Linked DNA regions of Homo sapiens: region 1 is linked to region 2. Evidence: fine-mapped QTL for protein levels in blood plasma. A gene starts in region 2. The other region holds a variant in brackets. All regions are shown on one strand. Distances are between the middles of the regions.

Region 1 (16,080 bases), 19 kb after region 2:
AAAATATGGGGGAAAAAAAGTACAGCACAGCTATTACCACCGAGAGGGAGGTAGGCCTCTGACATGCCCACAATACATGGATCAGAGAAGAGAGCAGCTTGTGGGACACGGAAGTGCGATTCCATTTCTGTTAAAGCCAATCCAGTCCCGTGTGTGTGGTGTGTGTGTGTGTGTATGTGTGGTGTGTATGTGTGTTGAGGAATGCCCAGGAAAATAAGTCGGGAGAGAGAATTCAAACTACTGACGGAGGTTACCCGGGAACCTCTTAGCTGGAGGGTGGCTCCTGCTTGTTACTTTCTAGGATTTCCATTTTGTGTAAATATTTTCAACATGTAGGCATGACTTTTTTGTAACTAAATATCCTAAGACCAAATGCATTTATCTTGAGATAATGGAATATGGAGTTGCTAGTAATTTGTATATGTCTTTCCTATACCACATGATGAAAAAGGTGTTGTAGAATTTGAAAAGAAATTTTAAAAGGCTTTTGGCAGATCTTTGGAGTCTCTGGCGATGTGTACAGTGGACATGAACGTGAGGCAGGGAGTGTTTTCCTGGGAGATGTCGTGAAGGGACCTGACAACCGTGAACTCGGAGGTGAGAAAGGCTGCAGGCAGCTTCTGACTGGCTCAGCGTGTCCAGCGGGCAGGGAAGCCTGGAGTTACAATGCCAGGCCCAGAATCAGCGGATCACAGCGCTGAGGGCACTTTCTGGTCCAACTGTGAAGGAAGTGAAAAGTGTAAATGTTTCTCTACTGTGCTCCCTAGAAATTCTGCTACTGCTGACTTCACGCTGCATCCTTGTGCCTGTGCAAGAGTGAACGTGGCTTTTTAAAATTAAACACACAACGTGTTTGGCGACCTGGAAGTCCTCAGAGGATGGGCTAATCCCCAGCCCCACTGGGGCCGCCTGCATCCCGTCCAGCAGAAACACTCCCTGGCTCTTGGCTTTCTGCGCTGTGTGCCCCCTGCTCACACCGACTGGTGCTAATCCCGGGTGGGTGGAGCCCACAGAGTCACCTGAGATGGGGCAGGCAAACAGCAAAATGTTTCTGACTACAGGGTATGTCTATGACCTGGCGGAGCCTGCTTAGAGGATTCGCTTAAACTGATAAACGAATCCCGAGGCCTGTAACCAGTCTGAGACTCTGTGTGTGTGTGGGGCGGGAGGGGAAGCCTCTTCCCCACTTTCCCAAAGACGGTACCAGGAGTTCCCCCATGGGTCGCCCCCAACATCTAAGCCCTCCTTAGAGGAGATGCCTCATAGCTCACGTTCCCGATGAGCAGTGTGTGCCATGTTCATGGGCGGCTTGGAAAAGCTCGGACTCCTGCTGTAGGGCCAGAGAAGGATACACACAGCGAGCCTGGCGAATCTCAACAGTACTGGGTGTGGTCAGAGGGCAGCGTGGGTGTGGCCGCATGGCTCCACCCCAGACCCACATGGAGCAGTGGCTTTGGAGCCAGACGCAGGAGCTGGGAATGGCAGCCAGCACATCACAACTTCTGAGCTCAACCATTTGGGAACAAGCTGTGTGCACTGCTGAGAAGGGGCTGGAACCGGCAGGAAGACGGACTCCGTCCCCTGGGATGGGACACAGCAAGGCCTCTCCAGTGAGGAACAAGCTCTCGGTAGCGGGTGCTACCAGGTCAGCCTGTGCACTCACCATCGGGGACAATCAGAGACACTGGGAGATGGCGGGACGGGCTGGGTCACTTCTAAGTCCTTCTCCAACTCAGAACTGCACACCTGATCTGCTCAGGAGACCTCAGCAGTCAAAGCTTCCAAGCCGCAGAATGCGGTGGAAATGATCCCTATTTCCAATTCAGCAAACTCGTTTGAAAAAGGGCGTGAGGATGTTTTCAAATTTAATTGTGGACAGCCATTTTCACCCTTTGAGCCAGAACATCTACTGGGGATGGAGGGTATAAAACTGCAGGCCATGGACACAGAGCGGAAAATAAACACAAAGATCCAATCTGGCTTTTACACAGAAGATACCACATGGTGTTACCCTAATTCTGACTTCAAACCCATCTCTGCCAACTTCAAAGGAGGCTCTTCATCAAAGGCCCTTATTTCACAGTGGCTGTGAAACACAAAGCTTTTGGCCCATATAATCCAAACCATACCCCCGCTTAAATGGAACTATTTCTTTTTTTAAGGCAGGGTCTGGCTCTGTCGTCCAGGCTGGAATGCAGTGGTGTGACCTCGGCTCACAGCAGCCTCCCCTTCCCGGGCTCAAGCAATCCTCCAGCCTCAGCATCCTGAGTAGCTGGGACTACAGGTACATGCTACCATGCCTGGCTAATCTGTGTATTTTTTGTAGAGACAGAGTCTTGCTATGTTGCCCAGGGTGGTTTTGAACTCCTGGCCTCAAGCAATCCACCTGCCGCGGCCTCCCAAAGTGCTGAGATTGCAGGTGTGAGCTACCGTGTCCGGCCTAAACAAACTATTTCTGAGATGACTCCCAAAGAAAAATTTTCAACTGGAACCACACAGATAGGAGTCTCTGAGGGGTGGTTTGGGTGTGGACACAGAGAGGGGAGACATTCCTCATGTTAAACATTGCAAGACACCCATCAGTGACAGCCGTTCCTCGGGCCCTAGTGACTCCTCAGAGTGCAGTGGTTCAGGTCCTCCCTCAAGGATCACTCCCGTGAGACATGTGGCGGTCAGCCTTGGGTAACAGGCCCTTCCGGCAGAACTCTGGGCAACAGGTCCTTCCGGCAGAGCTTGCTTGGGAGACACTCTTCTTCTGCCTGACCAGCAAGACCACCCTTGGGAATCTAGATCTGGTTTGTCAGGTACTGTTATTTAGAGCCTACTGAGCAAATCCAGAGAGCCTTACAATAGGCCCACGTGGAAACTGCTTGGAACAGGTGACAGCGTGTGGACTCCACAGCATGCTGGGAAGGCTGCCCTCCCGCTCCCAAGGGGCCTAGCATGCAGCGCTTCCCTGCCTCAGGACCCACTGACCTCAAGTGCACACACCTCATCGGCAGCTTCGGAAGGACTTCTCCATGCAGCAGTGTCAGGGGATGCTGCGGGCACTGCCCCCGTGCAGTCTGCTGGGAGGCTGACCCCGTTGGTGCCACTGCTGGGGACTGTGGGAGGGAAGGAGAGTGGGGAATCACAGGTGCTTGGCGGCCCTCCCACCCCCACTCACATAGCTGAGGGGCTGGGCCACGTCTAGTCTAGGGCCCCTCCCATGGTAAAGCCCACAGCACATGTCTCCTTTTTAAGGAAGGACCTGGTATCTCTACAAAGAGCCAAAATTCTTGGATTTAAAAAAAAACAAGAGAAACAAACAAAAAAGAGAAACCTGCCGGGCACAGTGGCTCATGTCTGTGGTCCCAGTGCTTTGGGAGGCTGAAGCGGGGAGAATGCTTGGGGCCAGGAGTTTGAGACCAGCCTGGGCAACACAGCAAGTCCTCGTTTCTAAAATAAGATAAAACAAACTGGCTGGGTGTGGTGGTGCACACTTGTGGTCCCAGCTACTTGGGAGGCTGAGGTGGGAGGATCGCTTGAGCCCAGGAGTTCGAGGCTGCAGTGAGCTATGATTGCACCAGTGCACTCCAGTCTGGGTGACAGAGCAAGACCCCATCTCCAAAATAAATAAATAAATAAATAAATAAAATGACCTTTCAAGTTTTTAAAGATAACCTGTGAAAATTGAGGCTGAAATTCTATCTGCAAACACACAGGGATAAATCTCATTCCCAGGAGCCGGCCTGCTTTTATGAAGACAGTGAATGAACAAAGCAGGTTTCACCCACACAGTCACACTCAGCCGAGAGCTGTGAGGAAGCTGTGGAGCCGCCTCTCCCTTCTCCGTTGCCAGGGCTCAGGAGGCTTGGGGCTGGAGACGGCTGGGGGGTGATTTAAAGGATCATCTTCCCTGATCTCTCTGTATTTCTGGTGCATTCAGCAGTCACCTCTGTCGCAACACTGCTGTCCCGGGTGCGACTTCGGGAACGCTCTACCCTGCCGTCTGGGCCTGGGCGCCAGGGCTGCTGTTTCTTACCAGTCTGGGACAGCGCCTTTGGCTGCGGAGCTTGTAACACTGCCGGGCGAAGCACGCTCCGCTGCTGCTCCTTGGGCTTCTGGCTTGGCAGACCTAGGAACAGAAGGCGGCCTTCCCAGTGCCCGTGGACCCCTGCCTGCCCCCAGGCGCTTCAGAGACTGACCCCTGGCATCCCATTTCATGCCCCTTGCAGGCTAGACTTTGCAGGGAAGCACTTTTTTAAAAACTTGAGGTCTTTTTTTAACAGCTGGCCAGGAGATCTGGCTACTGTTATTTTTACATGTGATTACATGAAACTCCCAGTGACCGACGCCTGTGAATTAATCCAGTTAGCACAGTAACGTGGCGGGGCGCCGGCAGACTCAACAGTCAAGTGGAGACTGTGGGAGGAGAGCAGTGCATTCACAGGCAGCTACCTGGAGGCTCAGGACTCGGTGTGGGGTCACGTACAGGCACATTTTGCACCTGTTTTTCAAAACAGCCATGCTGAGGAAGTCCCTCTGCCAAAGGCAGATGGGACAAGGACCCTTGCATGTGCCCTGCCCTGTGCAGCATCCCCGGCAGCCTCACTAGCAGCCGGCTCACTAGCAGCGCGCCGCTGGAATGCAGCCACCCTGCTAACTGGGGCGAACACTGTGGTATGTGGGGGCCAGAACATGAAGGACAGACAGGCTGAACCAAGTGCGCTACTGCTGGGCATGGAGCCCGCCCGATGCACCCCGCCTAGCCTGCTCCCGTGCCACCACTGCCCACTTTTCTGAACACACGACGCTCACAGTCAGGGGTCCCAACCTCCCTGCTCAGACAGCCTCTCTTTAAAGGAACTTTCCAGGGCTCGTGGGTCAAGTTACAAGTGATCTTTCTAGAAAGCAGGCTGAGCCCGCGGTGCCCTGGTGTGGCCTAGCAGAGGTCTGAAAAACGTCAGAGAGCCACCCCCCGCCCCAGGGAGGTAGACGACCTACCTGCGCTGGGGGCTTGGCCGTGGATCAGCGTTGGTGGCTTCAACCGGAAGCCACTGCTCCTTTCCTCTAAAAGCACAAGACAAAATATCAACAGCAGGCCTGCCTGGGCTGGGGCTGGGCCTGGGGGGCAAGGGCAGGAGAGGACTATGGTCTTGGCCTCAGTGACTTCGGGCCTGGAGAACCAGGGAGAACATTTCCAAATTACAACAGAAGTCTCGTCCGATCAGCAGGCCTGGAAGGCGCCTGGAGGAGGGGAGAGACAAGGGCAGGAGGAACGATGGCTCTTGGGCCAGCTGCTGACCATGGGGGCAGGTGGGGCGTCAGCCGCCCTCCCAGCTGTCTATGACCTGCTGCAGGCTCAGGAGCCGAGCTGCTCAGCGGCCCTGTACCTGGCTCTGGAGAATGTCAGGGAGCCACGGAACACAGGCGCTCAGGCCCCACTTCCCTTTCCTAGAAGGCTTGTCTGTCAGAGGATGCGGCTGTGGCCAGGAAGAACCTTGGCACCACTACAGATGTCTGGGAAGTGAGACAGGTTTTTGTGATGAAAAGGTCAAAGGTGGCACACAGTGAGCCTGCCTCCCCTTTCCAGATGTGCCTGCGGAGCTTCCCGTCTCAGTGAGGGGGCACTCCTGGCCACCGTGGAGGAGGCCAGCTCCCCCTGGGCCAGAGTCCGGGCTGACAAATTCACAAAACTAGAGGGAAAGGTGAATGCCCACGAGCTCCTGGGATGGCTCGAGAGCCCAGCCTCGCCCAGCCACCTGTCCACATGGACCCCTTCATCTGTGTGTCTTGGCAACTGTGCCCATACAGGGAGTGGGGATGGTGGTCTAATCTGATCCACAACAGGAAGGATTGTCATAAAAGGCCTGTGACTCAGGCAGGCAAGCCTGTTCCTGGGCAAGGCACAGAGACTGTGGCATTATGGCTCCTGGAGGTAGCCCTGCGTTTGTGCTAAGCTTCACCCCCTTGTCAAGCTACAGGACACAAGATCAATATACAAAAATCGATTGTGTTTCTAACACTAGCAGTGAATGACCCAAAAGCAAAATTAAGAAAATAATTCCATTTACAATAACACCAAAAGGAATAAAATACTTGGGAATACATTTCACAAGATAAAACTATAAAACAATGTTAGGGCCGGGTGCAGTGGCTCATGCCTGTAATCCCAGTGCTTTGGGAGGCTGAGGCAGGAGGACTGCATGAGCCCAAGAGTTTGAGATCAGCCTGGGCAACACTGCAAGACCCTAACTCTACAAAAAATTAAAAACTTAGCCAGGCATGGTGGTACATGCCTGTAGTCCCAGCTACTCAGGAGGCAGAGGTGGGAAGATCACTTGAGCCTGGGAGCTTGAGGTTACAGTTGAGTTACGACTGTACCACTGCACTCCAGCCTGGGCGACAGAGTGAGACCTTGTCTCAAACAAAACAAAAACATTGTTGGAAGAAATTAAAGGTGTAAATCAAAAGAAAAACACCCCCTCATGCTGTCTGATTGCATTTCTGTGAAATGCCAGACTAAGCAGAAAGGAGCTGAGCGGTTACCAGGGCTCAAGGGAGGGGGTTGGGGGCAGGCTGTGACTAACAGGGATGAGGTTTCTTTTTGGGATGATGGAAATGTTCTAAAATTAATCACGTGATGGTCGCACAACTCTGTGGATGTACTAAAACCACTCAATTGTACACTAAAACGATGACAACAAAACCCAAAACACCTTGTCAGCCCAAATTTTCAGACTCCAAATCAAGATTCAGCAGGCCAAGGAAGACCCCTCTCCCGCTGTGCCCCGGAGGCGCCGCTGTGCCTGGGCAGCAAGAGGATTGCAGCAACCCTTCTTACTATAATAGTTGTATGAGGGAGTCCAGCCCCAGGGGCTTCTGGCAGCCTGTGTTAGCAGAGCTGGTGCCTCTCCCGTAACAGACTGGTCATAAAAAAACAAACTCAGGAGAGCCAGATCCTGCAGGATGCGGGGGTGAGCCGCCAGATGTTCCTTTTCCGAAGGAAACACTCAATTACATTTCCAAAGCACGGAGCTATGCAGAAGACGACTGGCAATTTAGATACATTTTTAAAAGGTCAAATTCACAATTTAGATAGTTTTTAGCAAGCTCTTCAAGCTGGCTCTCCACGCTGATGTTTTGGTCACAGACTGACTACTGCCCTTCCACACTCCGCTCCGTGCAGCGCTGGCGCTAACGCTGAGGGGAGCCTGGGGGCTGGCCCGAGCTGCCAAGCGGAAGCAGGAGACTTGGATAATCCCTGCCACCGACCTGCCACTAGTGCTAGGCCCAGAGCGTGGCCCTCTCCAGAGCTGCAGACAGACAAGGCGTGCTCCAGGGGTAGCCAAAATCTGGAGGTCCCTGTCACAGGCCCTGCTCCACGAAAACAAGGGTGGTCTCTTCTCATTCCTTCCAGAAATTTTCTTCTGCAACACAGGTCGCAACACAAGCTGCTGAATCATGGCCAGAGCCCGACGCCTGCCACATACCCAAAGGGTGTGGGCCTGTAGAGGATGCTGCACCAGTCTCTGAGGGATGCGCATCACTCCAGAGAGGAAGAGGACCCCTCCCGCCGGCAGCCTTTGCCCTCCTGGGAAGCTGGCAGGCTCCCTGTCTGAGGGTGCTTTTCGCCTGCCTCAGAGAGCCCCAAGTGATGTCTGTGGGAAGCCATGCTTGCCCCCCAGGGAGCCCCGATTTAACCAGGGAAGGGATGGGAATGAGACTGTGTGCATCAAATGCTGAGAAGGCAGCCTGGCTGGAGCTGGGGTCTGTGCGTGGACGGCGCTGGTGCAGGGTGGGGAGGAGGCTCAGCCATGCGGTGGGCAGGGAGTGATGCCTGATGCACAGAGGACAGAGGGTGCCGGTTTCTTAGTGCCAGAAGAGGGAGGAATATACCAAGGGAGGCACCCACGTGCCCCTGGCGTCATCTCCACATGCAGGCAGGCAGGCAGAAAGTAAGAGATCATGTGGACAAAGGTGTGTCCCCAGCTCTGTCCGTCATCTCCACATGCAGGCAGGCAGGCAGGCAGAGAGTAAGAGATCATGTGGACAAAGGTGTGTCCCCAGCTCTGTCCGCGGAGGGCCGGGAGCAGGGCTACACCTGAGTCAGTGAGATCGCAGTACCGCACGGAGTGATTTCAGACCTTGGTTTCTAAAGACCATGTTCCCTGAAGAACCAGCGTGCCTCTGAGAAATGCAGATTCCAGGACTGGGATGAGAAAAGAGGCTGAGCCGGGAGGCTCTTGTTGTGACAAAGTAAGGGCAGTGCTCAAATGAACAACGGGGACCTGCCTGACAGGGCTTCCACTGGCCAAATCTGGGACAACCTGAACATTAAATAAAAACCAGTAACCATAGACGGTCACCCACTGATGCCAACAGAAGCTCGCCTGTCTATGTTGACACAATCGATCAAGGAACAAGCACGTGGGGAGAAGGGCAAGCTCCTCCTTCCAGTGAACACCACTAATCAACGCGGCAGGGATGGTGCTCAGAGTATCCCACGGGTGGTGAGTGCCTGTAATCCCAGCTACTTGAGAGGCTGAGGCTTGAGAATCTCTTGAGCTCAGGAGGCAGAGGGTGCAGTGAGCCAAGATTGTGCCACTGCACTCCAGCCTGGGCAACAGAGCAAGACTCTGTCTCCAAAAAAAAAAAAAAAAAAAAAAAAAAAAGGAAGAAAATCCCATGGGGCAGTCGTCAGCGGGAAACATCACTCTAAAGACATCACTGGGCGCGAACACTGGAGGGCAGGAGTGTGATGAGGTACACACAGTCCCAGAGTCTAAAGTGTCTCTCAGAAACCATCCAGCACAAA[G/C]GGGAAAGTAGCTTTACAGTGGTGAAACCTGGCAGACAGCACCCTGATCGAGGAGCACGGCCACCCCGTGCTGGTAAGGGGACAAGTGAGTACTGTGCATGGCTTCTGTGACATTCTCATCCAAGATGCCACACCTGGGTCTCACCACCAGGACATACTGGACAGGCCCCAACTGAGACACTTCTACCCAACAGCTGACCTGTAATCCTCAAGGTCATGAAAGTCAAGGGAAGCCTGAAGACCTGTTCCCGATAAAAGTGGAGGTATGTGTGGTAGGACCAGGGTCTCAGTCCTTTTTTCTAATGGACTCATGGAGCTGACTGGAGAAAGCTAAATGGGGTCTTCAGACAAAAGGGACAGAGAAATTCTTCTGTAAGTGTTAAAGCTTTTCAAAATTAAAGCTAAAAAACAGAAGGCAGGCAGACAAGGATGTGAAGTTGGGTTTGCAGAACTGATGTGTGGCTGATATGACTGCCTTTTCATGCGTGAGGGCACTGGGGCTTTAAACCATGCCGCGTCGGGGCCTGCGAAACAGCTGCCCTGCTCGAGGCTGGAGGGGAAAGGTCTGTGGGGAGAGAGACAGGAGGGAGGCCGTTGCTCACAGACCTCAGAAGCGATCATGAGATTTGTAACAGAGCTCAGCAGCACAAATGGGTCCAGACACACGGCTTTAGTAACTGATCACCTAAAGCAGAACCTGCCTCACCGTGGCAGGCTCTGTGCCCCCATCCAGACCACCACCTGCTAAGCGACACCCCAGGAATAACCAACATCGTGCCCTTCCTGAGGACCCTGAAACACCAAGCCCCTCTGCAGGATGAGACCAGGTGGTCGGCTCAAAACAGTTTGCTTTTAGAGTCAAAATGCCTTGTTGAAACGGGGCCATCAACTCAATGCTGAGAGTTATAAGAACCCACCTCTTCCCTTGACACGGACATCACGCCAGCAGCTAACTTATCTCACAATGCTTTTGAAGTCGGCAATGAATTTATATATGGTAGGTTGGGTTACAGAATTCAGGTTGTTAAACTCGCTTGTTAAATCTTTTATGAGGAATTTCAGCCACGTGGGAGAAACTTTCAGGAAACCTTGGAGTTGGTTCTCCAGTGAAAGACCAAAAAGGCAGGCTCCATATTCTTCAGAAAGGGGGAGCGGCTTTCCTTAAAATTTTAAAGCTGGGGGCCAGACGTGGTGGCTCACGCCTGTAATCCTAGCACTTTGGGAGGCTGAGGCGGGAAGCTCGCTTGAGGTCAGGAGTTCGAGACCAGCCTGGCCAACACGGTGAAACCCTCGTCTCTACTAAAAATACAAAACATTAGCTGGGCATGGTGGCACATGCCTGTAATCCCAGCTACTTGGGAGGCTGAGGCAGGAGAATTGCTTGAACCCAGGAGGCAGAGGTTGCAGTGAGCCAAGATCGCCCCATTGCACTCCAGCCTGGGGGACAAGAGTGAAACTCCGTCTCCAAAACACACAAAAAGTTTTGAAGCTGTGATTAAACATATTTATCTAGGTAGGTCTGAGCAAAATTAATGTGAGAATGCACAAAAAAGAGGTCTAGAAATTCACCAACTTCACAGGCGTTACCTTTGGGATGGCAGGGTGAGTGGGGAAGGGGCAGGGATTCTTTTTAGTTGAAATATTTCTGATTTACTTTAAAGAAAAAACAATTATGGGCCAGGTGCGGTGGCTCATGCCTGTAATTCCAGTACTTTGGGAGGCCGAGACAGGTGCATCACCTGAGGTCAGGAGTTGGAGACCAGCCTGGCCAACAGGTGAAACCCTGTCTCTACTAAAAAAATACAAAATTACCCCGGCATTGTGGTGTGCGCCTGTAATCCCAGCTACTCGGGAAGCTGAGGCAGCAGAATCACTTGAACCCGGGAGGCGGAGGTTGCAGTGAGTTGAGATCACACCACTGCACTCCAGCCTGGGCAAAAAGAGTGAAAGTCTGTCTAAAAAACCAAAAAACCCCAATTATGAATGCATTACTTGTATAAAATTTTGAAAAATGAGTGATACATTTCTTCACAGGTTGTTTTTAGAGGACTTAGAGCTCCATGCAACCAGGCCCTGCTTGCAGAAACAAACATGAGGGCTTATGAAGCCTCATCTCACGCCAGATCCCCAGACTATGAGCTGAAGAGTTGGGGGAAAAATTTTAACAGCTGAAGAAGAACTGACTTTAAATGCCCGCTGAAGATCTGATTTTCCCACACCAATTGCTTTTCCTCCCAGGAGAACCCCCAGGCCGGGCGGGAAGGCAGAGGGGCCGGGGCTCACTTGGCTCTGAGTCGGAATTGCCTGCAGATGGCTCGCAGAAGCTTGATGGCATAAAAACATTGTTTTTTGAAACTGTTGACAAGGAGGTGCAGGCGGGGGAGGGAACAAGAGGAAAAACAGCATGAATGGGTGGGGTGGACGCTCAGAGATCACCTCTCCCACCTGAGGGGTGGATTCTCACGTCCCACGGGAGGAGACGGAACAGCACGCAAACAGGGCATTCAGTCTTTCCCGAGAACAGCAAACCCCAAGACTCTTTACAGCACTACGAGGGTCTCCAGCCCGACGGCCTTGATCTGTCTGATGACTACAGTCAACTCTGGTCAACTGGGGGCACCCCCTTGTCCCTGCACCTCTGCAGGGGCAGCCGGCAGGGGAGATATCAGATGCTCCAGGCCACATTGGAGGCCCTGACTCCTCCTCACCTGTCAAGGCTTGTCCATGGGGTTCCCCCTCCCCCACCTAAGATCTTCCTTCACCAGGGCAACTGCTTCCCAGGGTGTGGGCCAGCCAACAGGTTTCCACAAATGAAGTGGAATTCGTAGGGGAAGAACTCACTCTACGCAGAATGGAACCAAAGACAACACTGTTCAAATTATTGGTGCCCCTCACGCCTCCAGTTACCCTGGAGAGCTGAGTGTCTCTTGGGGGCTGCTGCGCTGGACGGGAGGTGATTTGAAGAGGGCCGGGGAGAAGAATGGTGGTCCCTCGCCTCTTTAGCCTACATTCACAGCCCAAACACCTCCTCTTCTCTATGCTGGTTTTCGATACAGCAAGCATGGTTCAGCAGTGGGCAGTGAGGGGGAAGGAATAAAATCAACGAGCAGGAAGTGGAGCTCCCTCATTCCACAGAACACCTATCCACAGGTGCAAAGATCCTTAAATTAAAAGGATGCCAACTGCAGCCTGGACTGCAAGCCATCTGGACAGTTCCGCAATATCCAGTCAGCAGATGACAGTGTAATAGCACTGGAAAACCTAATGCAGCTGTGCAAAAAGACGCGGCCATGTCCAAAACCAACGTGATGGGAAAAGGGCATGAAAACAAGGGTGTGGAGGGGTGACTTGGGAAGGACCCTGGCTTCCTACGCTGTGTGTTCCTGTAACGCATGCGTGACTTCTGTAAGCAGAAACAACTTGACATCCTGAAGGTTCAGGACTGTAAAATGATTTACATGAACTTTCCAGGAATGGATTTCAGTTGGGTAACCAGAGAACCTGTCTAAACACTCATGTATGTCCAAGTTGGCACTACAGACAGCTAAGACAGAGGCCACGAGACAATGCCAGAGTGGGAAGTCAAGACGGGGACGAGAGAATAGCCCTGCAGTGGCATTTACCCTCAAATCTGCAGAGTTGTGCCCATGGCAGGAGGCCGGGCTTTCTGAGTGTTATATTAAGTAGTGCTGACGGCATTATCTGCCTCAGGAACCTCTCTCCTGTACCAGCCTGCATGAGTCCCCAGGCCGACCTCCAGGCCTGTGCTCAGACCAGGCCTCACGTCCAGGGCCTTCAAGCCCTTTAGCCTGCCCTGCTCCACAGTCCGAGCCTGGCCCACCCTTCCAGGCCCCCGCAAGCTCCTCTCCTCTGGGAGTTCACAGCATCACACACGGGCCTCTGCTGGGGCCTCCTGGCTTGCTGGTTACCGTGTGTGTGTGCATGCTTGTGTGTACATGCGTGTGTGTGTCTGGGCTACTGCACTGGACTGCCCGTGCTGGGCATGCAGCTGAGGGGTTGGGAGAACACCCCACCCCTAAACCCCCAGTCTGTGTCCAGCCTTGGAAAGAGGAGATGTAATTAACAGGCAGAGGCCCCAACAGGGCTCTCAGTAGTCAACCCCTTTCCTCCATTTCAGAGGGACGATCTCTTCACAGTCTTCCTCAGGCCACCAAGTCTCACCATGCCGTCAGTGTCACTGATTCGAGACGAGGACCCCTGATGCTGCACTCTGGACAAGCTCTCACCTCACTCCTGACAGAGCCCGAGCCTCAGATCGACTCTAACCGGAGCTGGGCAGGAAGGACACAGCAGACGGATGCGCGGCACTGAGGGGAATGGCGGGTTTGTAAGCATAAACGCTTTCACCATTCCGTAAGTTTGCATATTTTACCTGACTGTGAGGGTGGGAACTGGGTTAAAGAGGATGTTCTTTCTCGCTTGACAGGAGGGCAGTAATTTCCATCTTCTCTGTCAGAATCTACAGAAAATGATGAGAAGAGGAGGAGAAAAATCAGGTTGCTTCTGTCTTTAAAACTGAAGATGGTCAAAGGTGTTAGAGAGCTCCTTACCTTCTCCGCCTTCAGGACTGGAGCCGCCAGCTGACCTCTGAAACAAGGAGCACACAGCCGGGGTCAGAGGGCATCAGGCTCACGGCAGCCGAGCAACTCTCGGGGCCGTAACAAATATCCCAACATGCACCACGGGCAGCTAGTTCCCAGAGCCCAGCACCCGAATGAGAGCCAGGATTTTAGCCTAAAGCTCAAACATCCCCCCGATGAACCTCTGCACCCAGCTTCACAAACACATGCCAAGGAATCCTCTCAGTGGCTGGGAAAGCATCCGCAGCACCCAGATCAGTTTCTTGTTTCTCCACAGGTTACGCTAACTGGCCTGCCACCCCTAAACTCAAACACAGCCGAACCTCATCTGGCCCCCGTTCATTCTGCCAAGAGCTGAAAAGCGACCCTCTCCACCCTTGAGGGCAGCGGACTTGTGTAAAATGGTCACATCACACCGGATAGGAGCGATTTCCCTTCCTTGCCCTGGAACATTCTACCATGCACATGCTTGTCTCAGGGTCGGCTGTTATTCCCAGAGCAAGCAAGAGCTTGGATGTTTTGGACCAAAGCCCACTTGCGAAGTGTTTAGAACAGAACCATCAAAGACAAAGCCCAGTCACAGGCTGAGGGAAGGCTCCTGAAGAATTCCCTATTCCACAAACTTTAGCTTTAGAGTGTGAACAACCAGCAACCAAGACTTAAAATGGGCTCATGACCAGCCTGACCAACATGGTGAAACCCTGTCTCCACTAAAAATACAAAAAAAAGTAGCTGGGCGTGGTGGTGCACGCCTGTAATCTCAGCTACAGGCTGAGGCACAAGAATCGCTTGAGCCCGGTAGGCGGAGCTTGCAGTGAGCCGAGATCACACCACTGCACTCCAGCCTGGGCGACACAGCGAGACTCTGTCTCAAAAAAAAAAAAAAAAAAAACAAAAGGACTTAAAATGGACTGGGTGCAGTGGCTCATGCCTGTAATCCCAGCACTTTGGGAAGCTGAGGCAGAAGGATCGCTTGAGCCCAGGAGTTTGAGACCAGCCTGGGAAACATGGTGAGACTCTGTCTTTATAAAAAACCCAACCACATAAAAATCAGCTGGGCAGGGGGGTGAATGCCTGTAGCCCCAGCTCCCAGGGAGGCTGAGGCAGGAGGATCACCTGAGCCCGGGGTCTGAGGCTGCAGTGAGCTATGACCATGCCACTGCACCCCAGCCTGAAGGACACATCTCATCTCAAAACACAAACAAACTCAAAACTTAACATGAGGAGTGTTTATCCTCTCCCCCAACACAATCCCTCATTTATGTCCTGTCTCAGAATTTAGCAGCCCAAAGCGCACCGATGAGTGAGGGCCGCTCCTCCTGGCGCGCTCCCTGCAAGAGCAAGCAGAAAAGCCAATTTTCTTATTTTCTAAAATGCTCCTCAGAGGTCAAGTTTAGCCAAATGAGGCCCGCCTGCCTCGACGAGCTGCTGGGGCTTAGGGGAGGTGATGCATGTGAAAGTGCTTTGCAAACTGCAGAGTGGCCTGGGAAAGCAAACTGCAATAAATAAAACTGAGGAGCACAGGAGCCAAGGCAGACCCCCCTCAAGTCAGGGCGATGCATTTTCCCATAAAGGGCCAGACTGTCGGTACTGCTGGCTTTGTGGGCCACATTTGGTCTCTGTCATATATTCTTGTTTTTGCTTTTATAATCCTTTAAAAATGTAAACATCATCTTAGCTTACAGGCCCAGGCCTGGAGCTTGTGGCAGTGAGAGCCCAGAGAAGGTAGGAAGTTGACTTGAAGTCACATAGCTCGTTCACGACGGTCAGAAAAAAAGCTACCCTGGACTTTCTCCTCCCGTGTGAGCTGACAACATGGGTTTGTGTGGGAAAAGCAAGCCTGGGCTTCTTGCTTGAGGCCCGTGTTCTGAGGGGGCTTTGGAAATGCTCCCAAGGGACTGTACGAGTGAGGGCTGATTATCACTATCCCCACGAGATGACATCATCAAAGTGTGTGGGAAACACAAAATCCTTGTAACACAACAGTGGGTTCTATTAGTCACTGGGGCAATTGTGAAAATACCACTGAGTCCAAAACGCAATGCCATCAAGCAGCCAGGCCCTAGAGTCAGTACCAACTCCGGCCAGGCCAAAAGCACGAGGGGTGCAGAGGCTGCCTGGTCCCTGCTGCCTCTTGAAGGCCGGAAGAACTCAGTGTATTCCGGCTCTGCCATTTTCTACGGGTGAAACCTTACCTTGCCCAGCCTTCGGTCTCCTCACCTGGAAAACAGGGATGCGTGAGGTGACAGGCAGGGCAGGTAAGGTGCTCAGCCCAGTGCCCTGCACGCTGGGAGCAGATGATTATAATGCTCGTGACCCACACCTGATGAGATCAAACTCCCAACCGATGTAAAATCTGGAGGCTACGCTGGGGGCAGGGCTTTAGAGCTCAAGGCAGGCATGAATAGGGAGTCAGGGGTGTGGAGTGAGTCCTGGGTGCAGCCAGGAGGCGAGGGACCTGGACTGGGAACCTTTCTAGAAATGCCAGAGCCTGGGGTTGCATCTGATAGTGCTGAGCTGTCACCACCTTGTCATCCCTTTTCTTGGGTGACATCTGTGGGGTGGGTACAGGCTCCAGCTATCGCTTGCCCTCATACTTAGCAAAGGTGACAGAAGTACAGAGAAGCAGCATCTGCCCACCCGGGCAGCCAAAACCTTTGCTCATCCAGCCAAGCCTGG
Region 2 (13,721 bases):
GAGTGGAGATTGCACCACTGCACTCCAGCCTGGGAGACAGAGTGAGACTCAGTCTCAAAGAAAACAACAACAACAACAACAACAACAACAACAACAACAAACAGAGGCCCAGAGGTGTGAAGGGAACACACTCCGGGTCTGGAGGGCCAGGGCCACTTCCAATTCTGGGGGAAGTTATTGCTGAAATTCTGTTTTCTTTCTTTCTTTCTTTTTTTTTTAAAGAGACAAAGTCTCACTGTTGCCCAGGCTGGAGTGCAATGGTGTGATCACAACTCACTGCAGCCTCAAAATCCTGGTCTTGGCTGGGCCAGTGGCTCACACCTATAATCTCAGCACTTTGGGAGGCCAAGGCAGGTGGATCACCTGAGGCCAGGAGTTCAAGACCAGCCTGACCAACATGGTGAAACTCCGTCTCTACTAAAAACACAAAAATTAACCGGGTGTGGTGGCGCGTGCCTGTAATCCCAGATACTCGGGAGGTTGAGGCAGGAGAATCACTTGAACCCGGGAGATGGAGGCTGTAGTGAGCCGAGATTGTACCACTGCACTCCAGCTTGGGCGACAGAGGGAGACTCCGTCTCAAAAAAAAATCCTGGGATCAAGCTATCATGCTACCTCAGCCTGCCAAGTAGCTGGGACCATGGGCATATGCCACCATGCCTGGCTGCGTTTTTGCATTTTTTCTAGAGATAAGGTCTCATTACATTGCCCAGGCTGGTCTTGAACTCCTGGCCTCAAGTGATCCTCCCGCATTGGCCTCCCAAGAAATTCTTACTAAACATTTACAAATGAGATGCCAAAACAGCACTTCAGTAATAGTGGTTATATTTTATAGTTCTCTACACAGAAAAAAAAATGCTGCTTGTAACACTCATAGACATGAAAGTATTTCTCTGCCTATTTAAATAATTCTGGATTGCAGTGAGCCACCAGGATTTTGGCAGCCAGATGTCACCATGATTTCTCATAAAACTGATGATGTTACATCAGTGGTGGCCTGAATCAAGATGCTGGGATGCCTGTAACCTACAGATTGGTTTCAGACTCCAAAGGCAACTTTTTTTTTTTTTTTTTTTTGAGACGGAGTCTGGCTCTGCCACCCTGCCACCCAGGCTGAAGTACAGTGGTGTGATCTAGGCTCACTGCAACCTCTGCCTCCAGGGTTCAAGTGATTCTCCTGCCTTGGCCTCCTGAGTAGCTGGGATTACAGGCATGCACCACCATGCCCAGCTATTTATTTTTTTTAGTAGAGATGGGGTTTCAAAATGTTGGCCAGGCTGGTCTTGAACTCCTGACCTCAAGTGATCCGCCCACCTCAGCCTCCCAAAGTGCTGGGATTACAGCTGTGAGCCACCGCGCCCAGCCCTGGCCTCTTTTTTTAAGTTATTTATTTATTTTTGAGACAGAGTCTCACTCTGTCGCCCAGGCTGTGGTGCAGTGGCATGGTCTTGGTTCACTGCAACCTCTGCCTCCTGGGTTCAAGTGATTCTCCTGCCTCAGCCTCTGGAGTAGGTGGGATTACAGGCACCCGCCACCATACCTGGCTAATTTTCTTTTTTTTTTTTTGAGACAAAGTCTTGCTCTTGTCCCCCAGTCTGGAGTGCAATGGCACGATCTCGGCTCACTGCAACCTCCGCTTCCCAGGTTCATGCAATTCTCCTGCCTCAGCCTCCCGAGTAGCTGGGATTACAGGCACATACCACCACGCCCAGCTAGTTTTTCGTATTTTAAGTAGAGACAGGGTTTCACCATGTTGGCCAGGCTGGTCTCAAACTCCTGACCTCAGGTGATCTGTCTGCCTCGGCCTCCCAAAGTGCTGTGATTACAGGCATGAGCCACCGCACCCGGCTGACTAATTTTTGTATTTATAGTAGAGACAGGGTTTCACCATGTTGGCCAGGCTGGTCTCGAACTGCTGACCTCATGATCTGCCCGCCTCGGCCTCCCAAAGTGCTGGGATTACAGGCGTGAGCCACCGTGCCCGGCCAGTTTATTTACTTATTTTTAAGAGGCGGGCGTCTTGCTCTGTAACCCAGGCTGGAGTGCAGTGGTGCGATCATAGCTCACTGCAGCCTCCAACTCCCGGGCTCAAGTGATCCTCCTGCCTCAGCCTTCCAAGTAGGTGGGATTACAGGAACACACCACCATGCCTGGCTAATTTTTTGTAGTTTTTGTAGAGATGGGGGGGTCTCACTATGTTGCACAGGCGGGTCTCAAACTCCTGGGCTCAAGTGATCTTCCTGCCCTGGCTTCCCAAAGTGTTGGGATTACAGGCATGAGCCACCGCGCTCAGGCAAGGCAACTTCTGACAATATAATTGTGCTGTGAGCGAGGTAAAGCCAGGCTTGGAGAAGGCTCCGATTGATGATCCTTGGGTCGGGGCGAACAGTGGGTCCTCAAACAGGGCCCACGTTTCAAGTCCTGGAAAACCCACCTATCTTAGCGGGCAGGTATATCCGATGTCTCCGTTGAAGGCCTTCAGTGAGGTGGCTTCGTCTCTTGAGGTTTATGTCCAGGATCAGGGCTGCTCTTCCACTCGGGGTCACAACCTCTGGCTCACCACCTTGTCAGGAGCCAGCCCACTAAGTCACGTTTCAGGCCTGAAAACCAACAACAAAAGATCCGTAAAGACAGAAATCCTGGGACTGGCTCCTAACAACGGCCAGTGACAAGCTTTGTGGCAGTGAGCAGAGGTGTCCCTCAGGCTCAGCTCAGTCTCTGTGGGTTGCAGGACCTGCCCTTGGAGGTGGGCCTGGGTGGGAGGTCTTAGGGCCCCAGGACCTGGGCCACCTGGGGCTTTTTTTTTTTTTTTCTTTTTGAGATGGAGTCTTGCTCTGTCGCCCAGACTGGAGTGCAGTGGTGCAATCTTGGCTCACTGCAAGCTCCACCTCCTGGGTTCAAGCGATTCTCCTGCCTCAGCTTCCTAAGTAGCTCGGATTACAGGCGCCCACCATCATGCACGGCTAATTTTTGTATTTTTAGTAGAGGCGGGGTTTCACCATGTTGGTCAGGCTGGTCTCAAACTCCTCACCTTGTGATCTGCCCACCTCGGCCTCCCAAAGTGCTGGGATTACAGGCATGAGCCACCGCGCCCAGCCCACCTGGGGCATTTTTGTTGCTGTACAATAGAAACAAGTTCTCTATATGTTCCCCAGGCTGGTCCAAACTCCTGGGCTCAAGTGATCCTCCCACCTAGACCTCCCAAAGTGCTGGGATTTCAGGCATGAGCCGCAGTGGCCGGTCAGAACCTGGGGCCCTTTTGAACTTTGATTCCTCAGCAATTTTGTCAGCCCTGGCTCGGGCTGAGAAGCCCCTGTGAAGCCAGAGAGGGAAAGGGACCTGTCCAGGGTCACACAGGAATCATGCGTCAAGCCTCCCCAGCCACGGACTTGTCTCCATCCAGGGCATTTCAGCCCCTGCAGGGCAGTGGCCTGCCCCTCCTCCTTGGAGCCAGGAAGGGATGCAGTGCCACAGGGATCTGGCTCTGTCCCAGGCCCTGTGGGGCTGGCAGTTGAGTAAGCAGTCAGGCTGGGCGCACCCATCCCTCCCCCACTCCCCACTGCCCAGCACAGTGCATTCATGCAGCTGGGCCCCACCCCATCTCCAGAGGCACCTTCCACTAGCAACAGTCTCCCCAGGCACAACACAGCTAACACAAGGCCCCGCAGGCAGGACTCTGGGACAGACGCAGGCCAGGTGAGCATCTGAACAAGGGGCAGTCGGCCAGGGTGGGCTTGCGGGAGTCCCCACCTTGACCTCTCTCCCTTCCAGCTGCCCAGAGCCCAGACCAAGCATGGACGCCGTGGATGCCACCATGGAGAAACTCCGGGCACAGTGCCTGTCCCGCGGGGCCTCGGGCATCCAGGGCCTGGCCAGGTGAGCTGTCCCCTCTCACCTTCCTGACCCCGGCCCCTGAGACCACTGTTCCAACCGTGTCCCCTGCCTCCAGGTTTTTCCGCCAACTAGACCGGGACGGGAGCAGATCCCTGGACGCTGATGAGTTCCGGCAGGGTCTGGCCAAACTCGGGCTGGTGCTGGACCAGGCGGAGGCAGAGGGTGTGTGCAGGAAGTGGGACCGCAATGGCAGCGGGACGCTGGATCTGGAGGAGTTCCTTCGGGCGCTGCGGGTGAGCCCCCACCTCACAGTCAAGGCGTGTGCCCTGGGCATGGGGCGACAGAGGATGCTGAGATGCGGAGACGGGGACTCCTCCCTAAGAGCTGCTGTTAAGAGGCGCCTGCTGGGGCATACAGCCCCAGTGCTCTGCACAGCGTCTTGGGGGTTTGGGTGTGCTACCCACCACCCCCAGTCACCACCTCCTGTCCCAGCCCCCCATGTCCCAGGCCCGGGAGGCTGTCATCGCAGCTGCATTTGCCAAGCTGGACCGCAGTGGGGACGGCGTCGTGACGGTGGACGACCTCCGCGGGGTGTACAGTGGCCGTGCCCACCCCAAGGTGCGCAGTGGGGAGTGGACCGAGGACGAGGTGCTGCGCCGCTTCCTGGACAACTTCGACTCCTCTGAGAAGGACGGGCAGGTGGGTGGCTGCGCGGGGGGCCCCCTCCCCAGGCAGTTCCTCGGCCGTGCCCCCTCACGGCCCTCTGTTCCCAGGTCACACTGGCGGAATTCCAGGACTACTACAGCGGCGTGAGTGCCTCCATGAACACGGATGAGGAGTTCGTGGCCATGATGACCAGTGCCTGGCAGCTGTGAGCAGCTCCGGCTCAGCCCTGCTGCCCTGGCCTGTCACTCCCCACCCCTGCCGGAGACCTCCCTTCCCTGGGCCCCTTCTCTCCTGGGCAGCCACACCACAGAGCGGGGAGGGGCAGGTGGGGGAATGGAGGCTGCAGGACTGGCTAGACCAGGTCCCTGCCGGTCCACCAGGCGGAGGTGGGACAAAGGTCCTAACAGGAGTCACTGGCTCAGGACCCCAGGGAGAAACGCTCTCCCCACCCACGCCATGCTGACCAGAGATCTTGCAGCCCCTGTGGATGCCCCCGCCGAGGTCCCCCGATCCCCGCACCCGGACTGCTGCTCCCTGCCCCTCCCTTGCGGGTCCCCCAGGAAGCCAGGTGACCCCAGGTGGGAGGCTGTGTGTGGAGGCCATCCTGGAAGGAAGTTTAGACCTGCCCAGGTGTGGAGCGAGGGGCACAGGGGCATCCTAACCTCAGAAACTGAAATAAAGCCTTTGAAAAAAAAATCTGTAAAACATCAACCCCCAATCAGAAGATGGCAAATGGGGAATAAAAATAGCAGGTAACATGTCCAGCGGGCCCAGTATCTACATTCTGGTGAGCGGCCCGAGGCTGGGAGCTCTGGGCGGGGGCAGACCGGCGGGGCCTTGCAGCAGGGGTGGGGGTAAAGTGCGGGTGGTGGTGGAGAGAACAGGGCTGTGGCTGGACCCCAGCACTGGTGACACGCTGGGTGGGAGCATGAGGCCCCAGGCTGCTGGAGGTCCTCGCCCGGGGAGGTGGAGGCCGTTCCTGGTCAGGGGCTTCCTGAGGCCCCTGGGGCATGCAGAGGCCAGGGTTTTAGTTAAAAGTTTAATGTAGTTCCCAAATACATTTCATATGACAATCTTACATAAATGTTCCAAAACACATGGGCGTTATCTCGTTGTACTCGTCACTAGCTGGCTAAGGCTTAAAGCAGAGACGTGTGACTGGGTCTCTCGGGAGGGCCTCTGGTTCTTCCCGGGCTCAGGCTTGCTGGGGGCTGGGGGCCAGGGCTCTGGCGACCTAGAGGTGTGGACGGCACAGCTGCAGGAGGCCTTCTCTTAACCCTCCGAGAGTGGGACTGGGAGATTTCCTCTGAAGTCCCAAAGAGGCCCTGTGCCCAGGGGACCTCCTCCTCGGCCTCCCAGGTGGGTGGTGCAAGCTGGCTCTTGGCCATGCTCCAGGCTCGGGTGGGCACAGGCGTCCACTCCAGTGTGCTGCGTGCTTGTGAGACTGCCTGTTCTGGGACCAGCCCCTGGGCTCTTCCACCAAGATTTGGTGAGGGTCCCCCTCTGCCTCTCACAGAAGCCCCTGGCCCTGGACTGTCCTGGGGGCAGGGACACCTGTGGCTGGGGAAGGGATGGCCAACAGCGGGAAGCAGTTTGCGCCTGGTGCCTGATGATGGTGAACCACGTGACAGATGGAGACGGGAGTCAGGGGACCCTGGGGACCCTTCCAGGTCCAGTGACCTTTTCCCAGACAGGCACTCTCCAGGCCTAGGACAGACAGGGCCCCAACTCCTCATCACCCCATGACTTGGCCTGGAGGAACCTGGGGTGGGAAACAAGTAGTCCCCCAACCTCAGAGGCCAGAACCACAGGTGGGGGACAGGGACCTCGACAGAGCTGTGCCTGCTCAACGCTCGAGAGCATCTTAACCTAAGAAACCAAAACAAAGCCTTCGAAAATAAAAAGAAAAAAAGATGTAAAATATACACCCCCAATCAGAGAGGGGAAGTGGGAAATGAAGATAGTAGTTAACAGCACGTCCAATGGGCCCAGTGTCTACACTCGTACGAGCAGCCCCCCAAGCTGGGCGGGGGTCCCAGGCCTATAGTTGGGGAGCCCTGGGCAGGGGCAGAGGGCTGGCTGCTCCCCACAAAGGCAGGGCCCCACAGCAGGGTGGGAAGGGTGTGGGTGGCGGAGAAGCCAGGGGCTCTGGCTGGACCCAGAGGCTGGCGACACGCGGGGTGAAGGAACGAGGTCTCCAGTCCCAGTGAGAAGCCGTGACAAGTCTTAATGTGCCATTTCAATTCAAAGGAGGGGAGGGAGGAAATGTTCTTGTTTGTTCGCTCATCAATATGATGAGGTCTCGTGTCCCAAACCACATTCAGGCAGTTCCCGAGTCTGCTTTTGAACAGGACGTGCGGGTCCAGACTGTGGCCGGCCCAGTGGGGTGTGTGGTTCCCGGCCCCGCACCTGGACGCTGCCGGTGGGGTGGGGGCGGGTGGGCGGGTGGATAGACGGACAAAGCAGCAGCCTGGTGTGCAGCCGGGCTCCCGGCCGCTATGTGCTCCCGGTCGTCTGCCCGTCCCCTTCGTCACCAGCACCTGCAGGGAAGCAGCAGCCCCGCATCAGGATGGAGCCCGCACTTCCCAGGTCTGGCCACCCCCGCCAGGAGATCAGCACTGGATCAAGGATGGCGGGCAGCTCTTTCTATCCCCCCCAGGGTAGGGACCACCCGACTCACCAGCTGCGGTGGCCCCTGAAGGAGCCAGGACATCGTCATCGTCGCTGTCGTCCTCCTCGTTGGATGGGGCTGCCCCAGGCTCAGGCGCGGGCATCTTGGCCTCCTGCTCCTGCTCCACGCGGCTGCGCAGGGCCAGGATGCGGTGGTGCAGGGCTGCATACAACTGACCTGTGTCCTTGGAGCTGGCCTGGGAAGGGAGGAGGGTATGAGACCCCCGGACCCCAGTCCTACCCCCTCCTGCCTTCTGCAGAACACAAGTGCCAAGTCCCAAGGTTCAGAGGTGACACTGCCACAAGGCCTTGTGGGGAGGCCATTGGCCCTGGGCCTGCCGGCCTCTCCCCGAAAGGATGCCACCACTCCCAGGTGGCTGGGAATATCCCAGAGGTCAGGGTTGGTGGACTCGACTGTGACACCATGACATAGGAGAGAGGTGACCGCCCCACAGGGCTGTTAGCCCTGAACACATCACAACCCCTCAGCCAAACCCCAGCGGCTTCTCTGGGTTGAGAAGAGGACAAGGACCATGATCTCTATTCCTGAAGGCTGGGACTGGCGGGTCCCATAGTGCTTCTTGTGTCCCAGGAAGCAACTGAAGCCCCTCCCCCCTCCCCTCCCCACCGTCCTGCCTGATCTGTGTGCCCAGGAACCCCCACAGGGCTGGCAGGATGAGGGGTCCCAGATGCACCCGCGTGGCTGGCTCACCGAGATCAGGAAGACCTTCACGCCCTGGTCCTCGGTGTCCATGGCTGTGATGCGAATGCTCTTCTCGCTGGCCTTGTCGATCTGCATCTGGGCCCACAGCTTGGTGTTGAGGATCAGTCGCAGGCTCCCCTGGGTCCGCATCACTACAACCAACAAGGCCACTCAGCCCTGGCCCCCACACCGGCCCCCTCACAAACAGCCAGCTCCAAGAGCCAACACAGTCCAGATGGAAAGCGACATCACCGCGCAAAAGCCCATGATCCTCCCAGGACCCACCCACAGAGCAAGACTTCTCCCTGAGGCCAGCCCTGGCACACCTGCTCCCGGGGCGGGGCTCCTCCTCCCCAAGCCTGGACCACTGAAGGCCACAACTGCAGGTGGCTGCACAGGCTGGTGCTGCAGATCAGTGACCAGAGGCCACATGCAGCTTGTGGGAGGTTGTGTTTGGTCCACACAGGTGGGCACCAGGATGGCAGTTCCCTTGGAGAAGGGGGGATTAGAGAGGAGTACGGGGTGGGCTGCGGGAGGCAGGGGCTGACACTCAAGGTGCATGCGCTTTCTGTGTGTGTGAGACATCGGCCTCCATGGGAGTCCACGTCCTCCTGACTGGCCTCCCCTGAGTGGGCCAGCCCTGCCCTCTGGTTTCCTTAGGAGAAGGCAGAGTAGGACCGCAGCTTAGCGCTTCCATGGAGAGGAGACGAGAGGACTGTGGGCAGCAGATTACGGAGGAAAATGGGAGGGCCCTGACTCTTCTAGAGGATGCAACACCCCTGCGCCTGGCCTGGGCCCACCCCGTGGACTCAGCCAAGCCCCTACCTTCCTGCCAGCCGCCTCTCCCCACTGGAGCAGGCCTGGAGACGGTCAGAAACTTGTCCCCCTGCCCTGGCCCAGCGAACAGACCTCCCTGAGCCCAGGTGCCCACCTCAGAGGCCGAGTGGGAGAAAGACAGAGGTGATTTTGCTCTCCCTGAAGCTGGGGAGGGTACTGCTGCCACGGGGCTACAGGCTGATGACCCAGGCAGAGGGGATGACCTGGGGGCTCAGGGCTCTATGCCCTCTCTTTCCATGGACATTTGAACATTTCCACGAGACAAAAGGAAAAACACAAGAAGACGTCCATAAGGCTGGGCACAGTGGCTCAAGCCTGTAATTCCAGGACTTTGGGAGGCCTAGGTGGGCAGATCACCTGAGGTCAGGAGTTCGAGACAAGCCTGACCAATGTGGAGAAACCCTGTCTCTACTTAAAGTATAAAAAAATTAGCCAGGCTTGGTGGCGGGTGCCTATAAGCCCAGCTGCTCGGGAGGCCGAGGCAGGAGAATCGCGTGAACCTGGGAGGTGGAGGCTGCGGTGGGCCGAAACGAAGCCACTGCACTCCAGACTGGGCAACAAGGGCAAAACTCCGTCTCAAAAAAAAAAAAAAAAGACGTCCATGGGGAACAAAAGAGCAGTCCCAGCCTGCAGGGACATCCCCTGTCTGTTCTGACCAGAGCAGTGTTTCTGATTGAAGTGCATGAACACTACCCTTCAAGGGGGCTGCTTGAGTTACTGCTGGGCCTGAAACCCATATTTATGAAAAGGCCAGAAGACACTTTGATTTGGGAAGATAAAACAAAAAGATGGTCCCAGCGCAGTGGCCCACGCCTGTAATTCCAGCGCTTTGGGAGGCTGAGGTGGGAGGACTGTTTGATGCCAGGAGCTCAAGACCAGCCTGGGCAACACAGGGAGACCTGTCTTTATAAAGACAAAAATAAAAACATTAGCCAGACGTGGTGGTGCATCTGTAGTCCCAGCTACTCAGGAGGCTGAGGTGGGAGGATCACTTGAGCCCAGGAATTTGAGGCGATGATCACACTGTATTCCAGCCTGGGTGATGGAGTGAAATCAGCTTTAGAAGGAAAAAAAAGACACGCCCACATTTCAAATGTGCACACACACAGGCTGATTTCCTTAAGTGGGTGTGTGTATGCAGGTACTCCAAGCTAAATGTCCACCAATAGGGAAAAGTCCATTGACTGTCAATGGAATATTAACATGAAAGCTTTTCAAAAACAGTATATTTTATTTTTTTTTGAGATGGAGTCTTGGTCTGTCGCCCAGGCTGGAGTGCAGTGGCTCAATCTCGGCTCACTGCAATCTCCGTCTCCCAAGTTCACGCAATTCTCCTGCCTCAGCCTCCCGAGTAGCTGGGATTACAGACATGTATCACCATGCCCGGCTAATTTTTGTATTTTTAGTAGAGACAGGGTTTTGCCATGTTGGCCAGGCTGGTCTTGAACTCCTGACCTCAGGTGATCCGCCCACCTTGGCCTCCCAAAGTGCTGGGGTTACAGGCGTGAGCCACTGCGCCTGGCCAAAATTTGTCTTTATCAAGAGATTAGACTTGATGTTTGATTTCATTTTCCTTTCTATCATAAACCTGCCACTTTGTCAGAAAATCAGCTTAAAAACTTCCATAGACTTTTGTCCATTTTGACACTAAGAGGGTCACGGACGAGCTGGCAGCTGGAGCCAGTGTGTGAGGGTGGTGTTGAGGGCTGGGTGCAGGGAGGGGGTTTGGGGGGCGGCTCTCATGGGAGACCGACTCTGTGCCTTGACTCTCACAAGGGTAGGGTCAGGATCTCCCCCGCTTCATTCCCTTTGGAATTGCATAGTCCCCAGCCCTCCCCATGGGGACCCGGCCACAGCCCCCGCCGTCGGCAGCTCACCTAGTCGGGACTGTAGTGTGCCGTCATCGGTGGACGCCATGTCATTGAGTCTGAGCAGCCCCCGGCCTCTCTCCACCCAGGACTGTGAGGTCTTGTCAAAGACAAACAGCTTGCACTGCATCTGGAACACAGTGGCCGCCGGTAAGCAGGGACCCCAGCTGGTGTCCTGCTGCAGCCACACCCTGAGAGTCGCCCTTTAGCCTGTGGGGACTGCCAGGGCCAGCCAACGACGGCCTGGGGGCCACCTTGGTCAGTTTTTTGTCCTGCCCTCAAGCTAGAACAGGCTTTACATTGTATAAGGGGTATCTGAAATTAAAAGAATCACTAAGGAAATGAAAAGCAAAACAACGGTGAGAAGCCTCTCTGCGCACTCTAGGACGGCTATACCCATGTGGGGAAGCTGGAACCCTCACACACTGCTGGCGGGAAGGCCGCATGGTGCCACTGCTGTGGAAGAGTCTGGCGGCTCCTCAAACTGCTTAACAAGGAATTACCACATGCCCAAGCAATTCCATTCCTCGGTATGTACCCAAGAGAAATGGAACATTTGTTCGTGTTCACACACAGATCGCACATGAACGTGCACAGCACCATCATTCACGGTAGCCAAGTCTCAAGGAGGAATGGAGTGACACACATGGTCCGCCCCTACAGCGCATCTCACTCAGTCTTAATAAAGAACAAGGCTCCGACCCCCGCTGCAACGTGGATGAACCTCTGGCTCAGCGAGAGAAGCCAGACACGAAAGGCCACATAGTGCGTTGATGCCATTTATATGAAATGTCAAGGACAGGCAAAAAACAGAGACAGGAAGTGGATCTGTGGCTGCCAGGGGCTGGGGAGGGAGGAGGAGTTACTGCGAATGGACAATGCTCTTTCTGGGGGAATGGGACAGTGTTCTTTTTGGGGGCAGAAATGTTGTACGTTAGATTCTGGTGAAAGTTGTCTGACTCTGTGAATATACTAGAAACCACGGAATTGTATGCTTTAAAAGGATGGATTATATAGCATTTGTACTATATTTCAATACAGCAGTTTTGTATATATAAACAAAGAAAAATACGAGACAGACACCCCTACATGGCTTTCCACATACCCCCTAAGTCAATCTCTTTCAACATGAACAGATGACAAAGTGGTAAGTGGGAAAAAAGAACAGTGCTCTTAAGAACGCCACGATACGCCACCCGGTTTACAGACACAGACACCTGCTTATGTGCCACGGGAGAGGAAGCACATGGATGCTGCCCAAGCCGGGTGGTGCGGCCTGAGGAGCAGGAATGGGGGATGCCAGGAGGGGACGGTGGGGTGGAACCTCTGGCCGCACCTGATCTTTTCCCTACGAAGACACCACAGGATGCCAGGTGACAAATAATACAGTTGCCAGCTCTGGGCGACAAGAGAATATGTTTGGTATGACAGTCTTTGTCATTCCCTGAACCATCAAAAATGTCTCGGGCTGGGCGTGGTGGCTCACGCCTGTCATCCCAGCACTTTGGGAGGCCGAGGCGGGTGGATCACATGAGGTCAGGAGTTTGAGACCAGCCTGGCCAACATGGGGAAACCCCGTCTCTACTAAAAATACAAAAATTAGCCTGGCGTGGTGGTGCACACCTGTAATCCCAGCTACTCAGGCGACTGAGGCACAAGAATCCCTTGAACCCAGGAAGCAGAGGTTGCAGTGAGCCGAGACTGTGCCACTGTACTCCAGCCTGGGTGACAGAGTAAGACATTGTCTCAAAAAAAATTAAAACAAAACAAAGAATGTCTCAAACAGATCCTCCTCCTCTGAAACCAAAGACATGCAAGAAGCCCCTGAGCCTAAGCTCTCTCTACAAACGCCACCAACAAAGTCCCAGAGCGTGGGGCCAGTGGCCCCTCCGTCATCTCAGGGGCAGGCCTGTGTGCTCAGAGGATGTGGGCCCAGCCCTTGCGGTTGGACCCCCAGGTGCATGGAAGACCCAGGGCCACCGAGGAGGGGCCGGCCCCTCACCTGTAACACATTGCTCTCCGCCTCCTCCCCGGTGATGACTTCCACTTTTTCCAACAAACACTTCCGCGCTGTTGCCTTGGTGTAGGCGGCTGCCGACTCAGCCAGGGACTCTGAAAAGTTATTGGCCAAAAAGACTGACTGATTATTTGGCGAGAGGAGAGCCATCTCCCCTCATCCGACAGGAGATGAGAGGGTTGGTTCTGGTCTCAAGGACGCCTGCTGCCCCTGGCAGGCCTGCCCCGGCAACCCAAGTGGACCCTAGACACAGCCAGAGCATATGGCCTCAGAAGCTGCAGGGAGACCATCTGGGGGCCAAGTGTGGCCCCAGACTCTCGTGTTCGTGCCGAGCAGTCGACGGGGGGACAGTGAGGGACTCCTCCACGCCTGCTGCCTGCGCCTCCCCACCCTCCCCACGGCCACAAGGCGACACAGGCCCTCGAGTTCTTTATCACAAACCCTTGCTCACTGCAAGGCAGGGCCCTGGAGCTGGTTCACATGTGGTTGTTACTGCTGCGGGAGTCGGGCCCCTTATCCCTCCCGGCTGGGGGTGTGAATGGACCCAGCATCCCCCAAGATGACCTACCATGAGCCCCATGCTGTGGTGGGACGCTAACATACCTTTCTCAGGGGTGGCCTCCTGGGACGAGGACTCAGACCCTGACTCGGCAGCTGCATTTTCCCTGTTGGCATCTGAACTGACCTCGTTTAATTTTGGGGGGCTCTGCAGGGACACAAAAGCATACAAGGAAGAGGGCACTTGTGTGGTCCTTCAGCAGCAGCTCTGAGCACCTCTCTGCCTGGCCCCCAACACTACGCTGCCCCCAGCACTCCTGCCCACTCCCGGTGACACCCTGAACTGCCTGGGAGCTCCCCACGTGGTCCCTCAGGCATCACTACGGGGTGAGTGCCACCAGCCGACAGTCCCCTCGAGCCACACTGGTCACTCCGTCTGGGTGAGGCAAGACTTTGAACATTTCATTGAAATAGAAAAAGCACAGCGTGGCCACGAAGGAAGAGAAGCTGCAGAGTACTTAATGCAGCCTAACTCCAGACAGAGCTAGAGTGACCAGGCGGCTCAGGACAGGCCCTCACGCAGTCGCAATGGAGCTGGGTGGAATCAGGAAGAAAAAGGAACATGTGT

Direction of the effects. Positions count from the first base shown, and alleles are read on the strand shown. Strength reflects both the effect of a copy and how common the allele is.
For the plasma level of the protein whose gene starts at base 3,641 in region 2, G is the low allele of the variant in region 1 and C is the other (moderate association).

The links. A credible set is the group of variants that fine-mapping cannot tell apart. PIP is the posterior inclusion probability: the model's chance that the variant is causal. The UK Biobank Pharma Proteomics Project read protein levels with antibody pairs (Olink). The fine-mapping took linkage between variants from a reference panel, not from the people measured, so its PIPs are less certain.
Region 1: its variant is the best candidate, but not a certain one, in a credible set for the plasma level of the CAPS protein (UK Biobank, PIP 0.57).

What each region holds. Positions count from the first base shown.
Region 1 is chr19:5,928,428-5,944,507 of GRCh38, forward strand. RANBP3 (RAN binding protein 3) reads right to left here. Exons shown (of 17, transcript NM_007322.3): 4 at 13,372-13,408; 5 at 13,194-13,280; 6 at 4,987-5,052; 7 at 4,025-4,117; 8 at 2,977-3,104. Among named protein-coding and RNA genes, the nearest start is that of CAPS, 22 kb to the left of the region's middle. RefSeq lists a silencer at 11,347-11,527 and an enhancer at 16,051-16,080. The variant G/C (reference allele first, on the strand shown) is at 8,801.
Region 2 is chr19:5,910,614-5,924,334 of GRCh38, forward strand. CAPS (calcyphosine) reads left to right here and starts at 3,641. Exons shown (of 5, transcript NM_004058.5): 1 at 3,641-3,696; 2 at 3,772-3,876; 3 at 3,950-4,127; 4 at 4,327-4,533; 5 at 4,608-5,598. The coding sequence starts at 3,794. The coding sequence ends at 4,709. VMAC (vimentin type intermediate filament associated coiled-coil protein) reads left to right here. Exons shown (of 2, transcript NM_001017921.4): 2 at 1-240. It overlaps RANBP3 (RAN binding protein 3), which reads right to left. Exons shown (of 17, transcript NM_007322.3): 12 at 13,199-13,301; 13 at 12,581-12,690; 14 at 10,588-10,708; 15 at 7,883-8,025; 16 at 7,181-7,367; 17 at 5,526-7,040. The coding sequence ends at 6,997.